Linked DNA regions of Homo sapiens. The protein of the gene in region 1 purifies or fractionates together with the protein of each later gene. This does not show direct contact. Each region holds a gene or a part of one and is shown on either strand. Other genes may lie near its edges. The genes, in order: CPS1 and LRPPRC.

The links.
Region 2: the proteins of CPS1 (region 1) and LRPPRC fractionate together in Homo sapiens (co-fractionation; one large-scale study listed by BioGRID). This does not show direct contact.

The regions. Positions count from the first base shown.
Region 1 is NC_000002.12:210,605,099-210,608,924, forward strand, and holds part of CPS1 (carbamoyl-phosphate synthase [ammonia], mitochondrial isoform b precursor), read left to right. Parts: intron 1-3; coding exon 4-148; intron 149-1,632; coding exon 1,633-1,843; intron 1,844-3,262; coding exon 3,263-3,461; intron 3,462-3,826. UniProt on the Homo sapiens protein: Involved in the urea cycle of ureotelic animals where the enzyme plays an important role in removing excess ammonia from the cell.
Region 2 is NC_000002.12:43,891,447-43,895,272, reverse strand, and holds part of LRPPRC (leucine-rich PPR motif-containing protein, mitochondrial precursor), read left to right. Parts: intron 1-643; coding exon 644-728; intron 729-3,826. UniProt on the Homo sapiens protein: May play a role in RNA metabolism in both nuclei and mitochondria. In the nucleus binds to HNRPA1-associated poly(A) mRNAs and is part of nmRNP complexes at late stages of mRNA maturation which are possibly associated with nuclear mRNA export.

The DNA.
Region 1 (3,826 bases):
TAGGCCTTTGCTATGACCAACCAAATTCTGGTGGAGAAGTCAGTGACAGGTTGGAAAGAAATAGAATATGAAGTGGTTCGAGATGCTGATGACAATTGTGTCACTGTCTGTAACATGGAAAATGTTGATGCCATGGGTGTTCACACAGGTAGGCAAAGTATCTTCAAGAACTATAGTAATGCTTTCAGTTCATGTCTTTGATGGCCAAGGCAGTCTTTATAAAGTTGTTGCCTTTAAATTACTATTTCTAGTTGACAGACTAGTGATAACATTTTGGACAAGCATAGTATTTTACAGTATTGAAAATGTTCTCACATTTAATTTGATCTTCACACAAACCCTGTGAAGTAAGGCGGATATTACACTGAGTTAATTGAGGAAGAGCCAAAGGTAAGCAATATGGTAGAAATAAGATCCATAAAACTTAGTGTTGAGAAATAAGAAGGGAGGTTGAGACAGTTTAAAGCAGACTGAGCTGGTAATCACCCAGTAAATGAGAAAATAGGCACAATAATAGAAATAAGTTTTTCAGAAAAGTACACTAGTTAGATAAGAGGGCAAAGATGATAACTTAGGATTTAAAAGTGCTAAATTTGGGGTGTGAGCAGAGCTGTCAAAAAAGGGAGTTGAGAATGTGGAGATGGAATTTAAGAAATAAAATAGAAATAAATAAGTTGATACAAAGACACTGGAAACTGTTGGCATAAAAGGGGAAATTGAAGTTGTAGGCATAGACAAAGTATTCAAGGACATAGGTATAGAAAGAGGAGAGAATAGGGTTGAACTTTGAACTCTGGGAAACATTTAGATTTATAGGGCAGGGGAAAGAGGAAGTATTACTGTTGAAGATAGAAGGGGAGAATAAAGAGTTAAGAGGAAAATCAGGTAGTACTGTACCAACTAAGCCAATGCAAGAACTATTTTATAAAAGAGCTTTGTTTTTGGCAGTATCAAATGCTATGCAAGACCAAGACTGATTATTTAATTTGGCTCTTTTGGATGTCCAAGAGAACAATTTCATTGCAAAGTCAGTTCTGTGAGCTCTATTAAAAGGAATTACATGGTATCAAGTGGTAAGCAGAATTGGCAAACTTTCAAGAAGCTCATTCATGTAAAGAATGAGAGAGAAGCTTTGTATGGTTGTCTGGCAATGTTGGGAGAAGACTTCCGGAGGCAGTGAAGATCTGAGCGTGTTTGAAGGCAGAAGGGATGGAGACTAAGATTGCAGATATAAGGGGCTATGATGAGGGAAGTGAAGATGGAAAGGGATGAGATACAGAAAGCCAGCTGATGAGCCAGTCTGAGTGATAATATTCAATGAAAGGAAGAACTTCAGAAATAATTTGAGATGAAGAGCAGGGAAGTTGAAGTCAATCTAGTAAGTAGACGATTGAAGCCTTGATAGCTACTTACTAGATAGATGAACTTGGGAAAGGTTAGAGAGGTTTCTAAAAGTACTGTATCAGAGTAATATGGGCAAAACAGGAATTGGGGGAATACCTGATATCACATATATATCCCAACAAACCCTCAGACTGTTCTATGTCTTGCATCGTGCAAGTAGATGGTTAAGTCGCTGAAGTTGGTTATTTCAATATGCCACCAAGTAATGAGTGCTTCTTGGATATATAGGTGACTCAGTTGTTGTGGCTCCTGCCCAGACACTCTCCAATGCCGAGTTTCAGATGTTGAGACGTACTTCAATCAATGTTGTTCGCCACTTGGGCATTGTGGGTGAATGCAACATTCAGTTTGCCCTTCATCCTACCTCAATGGAATACTGCATCATTGAAGTGAATGCCAGACTGTCCCGAAGCTCTGCTCTGGCCTCAAAAGCCACTGGGTAAGACCAGAATAATTGACCATGGGTTTGCAGATTCTTTTCAGATAGAAATGAAAAATTGACAGATAGTGGAAGACTGTACTGCATTTACAAACTATGTTCCCTTTTTCTGTATGTTAGCTCCAAATCATTTATAGCACCCTGAGGACATGATTATTAATGAGCTTGTTGCCAGATTGAGGTAAATTATATTGCTAGCTGGCTTTGTTTGCAGGCTAATCTAAACGAATCAAAATCTAGGTGGCTAAAGCAGGCTGTGAAAAATCTGCTTCCTAATTGCACTTTGCAGATGTTGTTAAAAGTGCAGATTAATCCTTAATTTTAGTCTTCAGCTGTTTTCTTCAGGTGTATAGCCCTATAGCAAATAGTTGACAGAAAATATAGCTCACTTGACTCAAGCATGCAATACACATTACTTTTATTTTATCAAAACTCCACAAGACTGAACAGTGCGGAATTTTTTCACAAGTAACTGTTACAACCAAACAAATACATCTGCTGTCTATGTAACAGCCACTAGCAGGCATGATTGGAGGGAAAGGTAATCAAAACCTTTGGTTTCTAATAATATATTTAGCACCTTACACTTAAATTATGGCATTTAAATGAACACAATATTTACTTCTTTATATTTTTTTTACGTAGTTCCACAGCACTGCGTGGAGTGGTGAAAGGCATGTTGCCCTGTACAGGAGTCACAATTCTGCATTCTCACTTGGTTCTTCTGTTGACCGTGTGATTTTGAGCACATCACTCATTGTCTTTATCAGTTTCCTCATTTGTTAGGTGGAAGTTGTACTAAAGAACTCATTTTTAATTCTATAGTTCTATGAATTATTTTCTCAAACAGAATAACCCAAACTGACATTCTGGATGAAGATAGTCAAGTTCTCAAAGTGTTAGTTTTGTAAGGAGCCCAAAGTTCAAAGATAATTTGGAGACAGAGCAAGGACCCAAACTTGAAATGCCTACATTTTCTGACCATTATGTACTCTCTTGTACTAGCTAACTCCACTGTATTCTTAGGTACAGATATGTATATGTACAGATATGTATATATTTTCTCAAAAAATATTTTGCAGATTCTCATCTTAGTGGAGGTTAAATACAAATAAAGGTTAAACTTTATTTATCAATAAAGCTATCGATTTTGGGTTGAAGAGGTGAAGGTTGAGCGTTGTAGCAATGCATGTAGTGCACAGAGAGTAAATTCTCCTGTGACCTGTGCCTCTATACTTTGTATCATGACTCCTATTATTCCGCAAGTGGCTACTAAATATTGATGCAGAACAGAGAATCAAGTGTCTTATACCCTGAAGTAGAATAATACCAGAAATTTTAAGAAAGACCAATTTATGTTTTGGTCTGTTTTCAATAATTGCTCGAAGAAAAAAAAATAAATTTGTCTTCTTTTTATAGCTACCCATTGGCATTCATTGCTGCAAAGATTGCCCTAGGAATCCCACTTCCAGAAATTAAGAACGTCGTATCCGGGAAGACATCAGCCTGTTTTGAACCTAGCCTGGATTACATGGTCACCAAGATTCCCCGCTGGGATCTTGACCGTTTTCATGGAACATCTAGCCGAATTGGTAGCTCTATGAAAAGTGTAGGAGAGGTGAGTCCTTGGTTTATTACGCTTTTCTTCTTGTTCTCAGTTATTTTGTTAAATTTGTGACACCATTGACAGTGTTAAAGTTGCCTGGATACCATCAACACATGGACAGTGTTAAAGGTGCAATTGACAGTGTTAAAGTTGCCTGAATATTAGCATACTAATATGCTAACAGTCTCTATGTGATTGTTTACATATTACATATGTTACATGGCCATTTTGCTGGATTTGAAGGTCTTCCTATTCAAAAGGTGAGGCCATATATCTGGCTATATAGTATAGATACACATATGAAAACACATTCATATACATATAACTGAGTTGTAATATATTTTATAACCAAATCAAGAAAGTAATATAGAATATAA
Region 2 (3,826 bases), about 170 Mb from region 1:
GCCAGATTTTGCTCCTCTTGGTGAGATGGGAAGAGGGCATAGATGTTTATATATCCATCATGGGTTTATCCAGTAACGTTGGAGTAGGGCGGGAAATACTCAGCAGATATTCATTACGGCATAGCAGTTCTGTATTCACTCGCTACAGGAAATAAAGCCATAGCCGAGTCTGCATATTCCTGGAAGAAATAAGTAAAAATTTCAGTGAGATTCTGGAAATGCTCTTTTTTGTATGTCAAGTGTGTAACACTTCAGAATGTTTTAACTGAATTCTTTACAATTTCATCAACCAGTTGTGGCACCTAAAGATAGGGTTGTTATCTCTCTACCCTTGGGATCTCATAACTTCTTGGTATGGTCACCACTTGACAAAAGAAGCAATGTGTTTATCATATTCTAGAAAAATATTCATAGAAATGTAAGTGGAATTGCATTAACCTGTGGAAAAATGCTGGTTTCTTTTAGCTGTAGATTATTGAGTCAATATCAAATGCTAATATACAAGGGACAATAGTGCATTAAATTTAATAGGTAGTTCTGTTATAATTATTGTGAAAATTTTTAATATAGTGTTGATTTGTCAGTGTTCTAATTCACTGTTAATTTGCGGTTTTCATAATATTACCTTTATGTAATTTCCTAGGCATCAACTGTGAAATCTGTGTTAGAATTGATTCCTGAATTAAATGAAAAGGAAGAAGCATACAATTCCCTCATGAAAAGCTATGGTAATATAAGTTTAATTTGACTATATTATTTATTTAAATGGCTTTATTATTTAAGTGACTATATCATGTAAATGACTTGTAGTATAGTGAACTAAGTCTTAGTCTTCAGCTCAAAGGCAGTAATCCTAAATATCAGATAATTATGATATAAATAACTCAGTTCTGGAATATGTTTTTAAACTATTAAGAAAAATATGAAATTATGCATATAACTTTAACATTAAAAAGTATCACTGAACATCTTCCGAGCAGTCCGGGTATATTGAGTAGAATCCCAGGCTCCTGGGAAGACCTGGAAATCCTCTTGGACTTATATATCAGAAACCAGTTCAGTCTCCCCAAGGGCCTGCCACCTGAAACAAGTACACATTTGAGACTCACTTAACTGGCCTTCTTGCTCCTTCAGTACCCTCTCTGCTTGCCTGCTACTCCTTTGAAATGACAGACCCTTGATTAAAAAGTAGCCCAAGGTTTTTACGTCCCAGTTCAAATTCTGGTCTTTTAACCAGTTTGTTCCCTGATTGCCAGACAATCACATATGAAAGGAAATTGTCTAAAGTTTCCTCAGTCATCAAAATAAATGTTAGCATTTCTCAATCATGATCACCTCTCCATCTGTGGCCCACTGATTTGCTCACTGGAGGCATGGGGTAAATAAAGAATTGCTTCATTGATTTTATCTATGGGAGGACAACAGACTCAAGAATCAGAATTAGTAAGTCAGTTCTCTTTTTCCGTCCTTACAGGGAGAACATTCTGTATTATTTCAAAATAGAGCTAATAGTCATAAAATTTATCAAATTTCCAGTAACTAAACACAGGCATACCTGGAAGATATGGTTCCAGACCACCACAATAAAGCAAATATAATGAACAAAGTTACATGAATTTTTTGGTTTCCCAGTGCATATAAAAGTTATGTTTACACCATAGTGTAGTGTATTAAGTGTGCAATAGCATTATGTTTTTAAAAAGTACATACCTTAATTTTAAGATATTGCTAAAAATAGTTAACGATCATCTGTGCCTTCAGTGAGTCATAATCTTGCTGGTAGAAGGTCTTGGCTCAATGTTGATGGCTGCTGAATGATCAGGGTGATGATTGCTAAAGGTTGAGATGTCTTAAGACAACAATAAAGTTTGCCACATCAGCTGACTTTTCCTTTCACGAAAGAGTTCTCTGTAGTATGCGATGTTGTTTGTTAGCATTTTATCTGCAATTGAATGTCTTTTCAAAATTGGAATCAATCTTCTCAAACCATACCACTGCTTTATTAACTAAATTTATGTCATATTCTGAATCCTTTGTTGTCATCTCAACAGTGTTCACAGCATCTTTACCAAGAGTAGATTCCTTCTCAAGAAACCACTTTCTTTGGTCATCCATAGGAAACAGCTTCTCCTCATGTTAAGTCTGATCATGAGATTGTAGCAATTCAGTCACGTCTTCACGCTCCACTTCTCCTTCTAGTTGTCTTGCTATTTCCACATCTGCAGTGATTTCCTCCACAGAAATCTTGAGACCCTCAAGGGGTTCATCCATGAGGGTTGAAATCAGCTTCTCCCAAACTCCTGTTAATGTTGATAATTTGACCTCCTATCAATTACAGATGTTCTTAATGGCATCTAGAAATGGTGAACCCTTCCCAGAAGGTTTTCAGTTTACTTTGCCCAGATCCATCAGAAGAATCACTGTCTGTGTCAGCTATAGCCTTATGAAACATGTTTTTTTTTTTTAATTTTATGTTTAAAACATGGAACGCTTTACACATTTGCGTGTCATCTTTGTGCAGGGGCCATGCTAATCTTCTCTGTATCATTCCAATTTCAGTATATGTGTTGCCGAAGTGAGCCCAAAATGTGTTAAGACTTGAAAGTCAAGATTACTCCTTGATCTATGGGCTGCAGAATGGATGTTTTATTAGGGCACCTGAGAACAACATTAATCTCCCTGTATATCTCCTTCAGAGCTCTTGGGTGACCAGGTGCATTATCACTGAGCAGTAATATTTTGAAAGGAATCTTTTTTTTCCTGAGCAGTAGGTCTCTACAGCAGGCTTTAAATACTCAGTGAACCATGTATAAACATCCATGCTGTCCTCTAGGCTTTGTTGTTCCATTTATAGAACACAGGCAGAATAAATTTAGCGTAATTCTTAAGGGCCCTAGGATTTGGGAATGGTAAGTGAGCATTGGCATCAACATAAAGTCACCAGCTGCATTAGCCATTGAAAATAGAGTCAGCCTGTCCTTTGAAGCTAGGCATTAGCTTTTCCTCTCTAGCTATGAAATCTTTGATGACATCTTCTAATATAAGACTGTTTTATCTACATGGAGTATCTGTTGTTTAGTGTAGCCGCCTTCATCAGTGGTCTTAGCTAGATTTTCTGGATAACCTGCCGTAGCTTCTGCATCAGCATTTGCTGCTTCACCTTGGACTTTCGTGTCATGGAGATGGCTTCTTTCCTTAAACCTCATGAACCAGCCTCTGCTAGTATTAGGGCCTTGCACTGGATTAGGCTTTGGCTTTTAAGGGAATGTTGTGGCTGGTTTGATCTTCTATCCGGACCAATAAAACTTTCTCCATGTCACTAGTAAGGCTGTGTCAGTTTCTTATCATTTGTGTGTTCAGTGAAGTAGCACCTTTTTAATTTCCTTCAAGGACTTTTCCTTTGCATTCACAACTGGCTGTTCCACGCAAGAAGCCTAGCTTTCAGCGTATCTCGGCTTTTGACATGCCTTCCTCACTAAGCTAAGCTTAATCATTTCATTTCTCGCTTCTGATTTAAATGAGAGATGTATGACTCTTTCACTTGAACACTTAGAGGCTATAATAGGGTTTTTAATTGGCCTAATTTCAATATTGTTGTGTCTCAGAATAGGGAGGCCTGAGTAGAGGAAGACAGGAGAATTACTAGTCAGCATCGCAGTCAGAACACGTTTCTCAAGTTTGCCATCTTCCATGTGTATGGTTCATAGCATCCCCCAATTACAATAGTAACATCAAAGATCACTGGTCACAGATCACCGTAACAGATATAACAATAATGAAAAAGGTTGAAATATTCCAGGAATTACCAAAATGTGACACAGAGACA